Regions from separate parts of the Homo sapiens genome. Here region 2 is linked to region 1. The links come from fine-mapping of genetic effects on gene expression. Tissue or cell type: prefrontal cortex. Region 1 holds a variant in brackets; the other region holds the start of a gene. All regions are shown on one strand. Distances are from middle to middle.

What was found. PIP is the estimated chance that this variant, and not a neighbour inherited with it, causes the effect. A credible set is the group of variants that fine-mapping cannot tell apart.
Region 2: it holds the start of LINC02347, and the variant in region 1 is the best candidate, but not a certain one, in a credible set for the expression of LINC02347 in prefrontal cortex (GTEx, PIP 0.65).

What each region holds. Positions count from the first base shown.
Region 1 is chr12:126,357,134-126,359,824 of GRCh38, reverse strand. LOC105379613 (a long non-coding RNA gene) reads right to left here. Exons shown (of 3, transcript XR_001749379.1): 3 at 2,098-2,691. It overlaps LOC101927531 (a long non-coding RNA gene), which reads right to left and starts at 1,806. Exons shown (of 3, transcript NR_187677.1): 1 at 1,688-1,806; 2 at 179-1,599. The variant C/T (reference allele first, on the strand shown) is at 1,629.
Region 2 is chr12:126,441,428-126,444,118 of GRCh38, reverse strand. LINC02347 (long intergenic non-protein coding RNA 2347) reads right to left here and starts at 1,638. Exons shown (of 12, transcript NR_130748.1): 1 at 1,531-1,638; 2 at 1,092-1,153. The region is part of intron 2 of LINC02825 (long intergenic non-protein coding RNA 2825); the gene reads left to right.

The DNA.
Region 1 (2,691 bases):
TAATTTCACTTTTCTATATTCTTGACTAGACCTGATTATTTTTTAGGAGCAGCCCTCGAATAAACAGCAAACCTTACTGACTGAAAAATTCAAACTCCAACTGCTCACAGGCACCATAGAGAGAATGAGAATGAGAACATACACAGGGTGTGTGGTTGGGGTTCATGTGAATTCTTACCTGTTTTTCTTTAATTTACATATTCCAATTTCCACTCTTTGTGACTTCCAGAAACAGAATGTTATCTGAGCCAATTATCTACGTGCATTTTCTCTTCATCTCTCTCCTGAGCCAAATTCTGATTTAATTTCCACCCATGGTGATATGCAGCCATGTACGTAGGCCAGTTGGGCCCATCACATTTGAATGAATGTGATTAGACAGATGTGAGATGGCTCAATCCCAGATGCTTCCTCTAAGCGCTATTGTGGATGTGGAGAGAAACATTATTGGTTGTACTTTTAATATTCAGCAAATTGTCTCAAAATGGCCCCTAGGCACACATAAGGTTCAGTAGCTGGCTGGCATTCCAATCTCACAGTAAGTGAAATTCTAACTTTAGTAATAAATTAACTTGGGAACTTTGGACATATCTCACAAAATCTGTGAGATATCTGACTATGTCATTTTACCAATATCCACACACAAGTCTAGAACAATTACAATGTACAAACCTAGAAATTTGGGACATCTGGTTTACCAGTTGCTCCGCCTCTAGCTCAGCTTTCAAAGATGCTCCTGTTTACAATTAACGGACATGATTATTTCACGCAGATGGAAGGTCTTGCTGTTGGAGTTAAACATATTTGACTCAATCAATAGAGTTATTGTTCTGGGACCAAAATGTCTCTGACTCATAACCTTGCTTTTGCTCTTCCTATCAAATGAGTGTGATATTAATTTCTAGCCCTGCAGTGGTAGAATCCTCCCAGCAATATAAGAAGACGGAAGAAATAAGAACGTCAGTCAAGCACTCCCTTGACATACCTTTTCATTTTACCAGTCACACCACAGCAGCAGAACAAATATTACAGGCTTGTGTAAAGTGCTATAACTAATCCAATAAATGACAAGAGCCTCCCGTCCTCAGTAATTCTCATTTAGGATGTGTTTCTTCTCTAATAGGTTTCCCTCCAAATGCTTTGTGTCATGAATTCGCTACAGCAAAAACCTTTAAGAATCTGAAATTCACTGGAGCTATCCTGCATTTGCAGCCCAGAAATTACTGGCTTTAGCAGTCTTTGCTCTCTCGGTTTAATCTGAACATAAATACAGATATTTGCTTCAACAGTCGCTAAAGGAAAATTATAACACTGTCAAAAAAACTTGGAGAAGCTGCCTGAAAATGGTGTTCATTTCCCTTTTCTTTCAGCATTCTTCTTTGTTAGCACAACTCAGAGGAGTGCACCAGTAGAGTTACTACCTTTCTTCTTTCAATGACGGGGAAAGCCACCACCATCTGCCACATTTTTTTTCTAAAAGCAAAACCCAAACAGAAAAGGTATTTGCTCTTAGCAAATAATCAAAACGCAGCAAATGGACTGTCCCAACATGGTTGCTTTGCGGGGGTCACCTCTTTGGTTGGCAGTGAAAACCGACTCCTGAAATAAAAAGAAAAATTCAAATGTGA[C/T]AACCGGTCTTCAGATGTTATCACCTTCAACTCATAAGCACTGAAGGAGAGCTAACTACCTTGCACTTCTTGTCACCTTGGTGGGGCATTGCAGGTTCTGGGAAGAAACTGAGGCCACTGAGGCCTGCTTTCCGAGAAAGAGACCAAAGGCCAGAAATGGAGCTAACAGGAAATAAAGACATATGGTTGTTGTTTCTCCCCTCCCTTCCCTCTCTTCCCCTCCCCTCCTCTTCCCTCTCTTCCCCTCCCCTCCCCTCTCTTTCCCTCCCTCCCCTCTCTTCCCCTCCCCTCTCTTCCCTTCCCCTCCCCTCTCCTCCCGTCCCTCCCCTATCCCCTCCCTCCCCTCTCTTCCCTTTCCCTCCCCTCCCCTTCCTTCTTGCCTCCCCTCTCCTCCCCTCCCTCCCCTCTCTTCCGACTCCCTCCCCTCTCTTTCTCTCCCCTCCCCATCCCTTCCCTTTCCTTTTCTCTTTTCTTGTCTTTTCAAACTTTACATTCGATTCCACCTCTTTACAAGCTCCCATTAGCTTAAGGTCAGATAGAAGTTTGCATGCAAACATAGTAAAATAGGCTTCCATACAGCAAACAACTATCAAAAGGTCATGCTTTTTATTTTCACAGACGTAAAAGCCACCATCAACATTTGCAATGAGAGCAGTGAGATGTAACAGCAACAACTGCTACCAATAAACCTAATAATCGCAAAGATCGCACCTAGTTTGTACCGTGTTATATCCCGGTGCAAGACAGTGACTGCTATAAAGCAGGTGATTGTTAAGTATTTTTTGAATGGATGAATGAACGAAATGTAATTTTGAACACTTCCCCCCCTCTTCCCTTGGTACATATATATAGGTGCTATATTTCCTCTTGACACATCAGTGCCACCATCTTCTTCTAAGGCTGGGCGGTACATTTCCCTGATCTATTTGCCTCTGAGCCTACTGGTCAGAGCTTGGTTTAAGGGGAACCCAGGAGTGATTTGGTAGGCAGAAAGAAGCAGAAGACATCGACCCCTGGACACCATTCTGCCCGGGGGTGGCTTCACCGTCCTCTCCAGGAGCCT
Region 2 (2,691 bases), 84 kb before region 1:
GTCTGGGACATCTGCTGTCCATAGAGTAACCAAGGGCTATTTCCCAGCCACTAATTCCAGAGGTTTCCAGAGGGTTTTGTTCCCTCCTTCTTTGAACACTGCAGTCCATCAGGGTTTCAAGTAGTCCTGGTTTCCCAAAGTCTTGGTTGAAACCTGAAACACAGGACATTTGACCAAAAAAACAAAACAAAACAAACAAAAAGAAAAAAAGCCCCTATCCTAATGCCACAGAGACCCCAAAACAATTCACCAAGTGCATCAGGCCTCAGAGAATCAAATCAACTCTTTCAGTCTCTGCCAATGGCCATTCTCTCCATAAGTCTCGGGCAAAATTCCCGGTGGGAGGCAAATGAAGCCGTGTCTACACATCTGCTGTCCTCCCTCCCACACACCCTCTCCACTTCCTTCCTCGGTAGGTCACAATCAAAACACCTATGCAAATTTAGTGATTCTTTATAATTTCTTATCCATTGAGCCTCTCATGCTGTGCTTTATCAGTTTTCCATGACCACGAGACGCTCGCAGAACAAGCTAGTGCTTGGGACAACTGAAGATGAAAAATAGATCATTGGAGGTTGTGATCTAGCAAGGAAGATTAGGTTTATACCTAGAAAAGTTAGAAAAGCAGGCGCCTAGAGAGCCAGGTGTCACCATTTTAAAATTAACTCCATCTTTAAACTCGCAACACACATTCCTTGCCAGTTATGACCCGTGGTCATAAGATGTTTACTGCAGAGGAAACCGCTTGGCAATGCCTGCAAGGACAAACTCCTACAACAGCAGAAAGTCCACATGTCCCAATATCACATAACAATATATGCTTTTAAGAAATGTACAATCATGCTTTCATGTACTTATAAACTAAAATGCCAAGGATAACTTTCTTTAAATGGCCAAAGTACTACATCTTGTCACATTGTCAGCCCACCCACACACAGAGATAGCTTAGCTTTTATGTAGATGAGACCCCTGTGTAAGAAGAGTTTAAAACAAAGACAGGGCATTCCTCCTCTTGCTTTCTGAGGACACCCTACTCTGAATCTGAAGAATTTTCAATAAATGATCTCTTCTCACTACACTCTACAACTCACCTTGAATCCCTTTCTGTGGGAGGTCCAGGAACCCTCTCTTGAGGTCTGGATCATAGGGACCCCTTTTTCCAGCAACACAAACATTGACAATATAAAAATAAAGAACATGTTTATCTATGATATCAATGTCTGTATCTGTAAGTATACCTAGCTCAAAATCTGTCTCTTTATTTAGTTTTCTAACTATATGTCTATCTGTATCATAGACATATTAGAAATCATAATTTCTAACATATTGTTGTAGGAGGTCATAACAGAACCTATTATAAAGTGACAGTCTCTTGCTCCTATTTTCTATTATTTCCCATTCAGTCCAGGTAAGTCTTTTTGGGGGACCCTCCCCCACACCCGCTGGAACAGTTACTCTGGCACAGCCGCTCCAGCCTGGATCTCATTTTTGCTTCTCCTGGACTTCTCACTGTGCAGATGTTAGACTCACACTCTCCTCTGGCCTCCTGCTCCTGCTCTGAAAGTGAGCAGTTGTCCCTCTGGGTGGCATTTGAAGTCAAAGCTGGGTCTCTTGACAGTGCCCACCCCTGGTATTCCCACTGCAGGAGGGAGGCCTCTTCTGTTAACAGTGACAGTTATTACAGAACAATGCCTGGAGAGATGATAACTTAGAGCAATTTCATTGTCTTTCCCCTTGACGACTCAGCTCCCACGCTAGAGCAGGTGAGGCAGTGCTTAGGAATAACAAAACAAAATCGCAAAGCCAGGACTTCCTTGAGTTTACTTTGCTTTCTCACTAGATTTTAATTATTATTATTATTATTATTATTATTATTTTGAGATGGAGTTTCACTCTCGTCACCCAGGCTGGAGTGCAATGACGGGATCTCAGCTCACTGCAACCTCTGCCTCCCGGGACCAAGCTATTCTGCCTCAGCCTCCTGAGTAGCTGGGATTACAGGCACCCGCCACCAAGCCTGGCTCATTTTTGTATTTTTAGTAGAGACAGGGTTTCACCATGTTGGCCAGGCTGGTCTCGAACTCCTGACCTCAGGTGATCCGCGTGCCTCAGCCTCCCAAAGTGCTGGGATTACAGGTGTGACCCACGGTGCCCGGCCTCTGACTAGCTTTTTGGAAAATTTCATAGAATGATCCAGGGTTCCAGATTCAATTTACTTTAAGGTGAAATAAGTGGGCTGGTTAGCAAGTGGTCAGCTTTTCTTTGGTGTGAGGATAAAAAGAGGGTGGCTACTTTCTATGGCTTTCCAAACAGTCTCTGTTTCACTTAGTCCAAAAACACGTAATGTTCATATAACAAAGAAATGATACATATTTGAGGTGATGATATACTAAGTTGCCTAATTGGATCATTCCGCCATGTATACAGGTATCAAAACATCACATTTTGTTCTATAAATATATACAGTTACTATTTGTGAATTTAAAATCAAACTATAAAAAATACATTCTACTAATGTTCTAAGATGACTTCTGAGACATTTAGCGTGTATTGATTACTTATACTATGTCTCTCACTGCTTCTACTCATTGAAGAGGTTTATATTGTAAGTAAACATAATTCTTATCATATTCATTTTACAGATAAGGAAACTAAAGTGCAGAATAAATATTTGTCCAAATCTGCACGAGA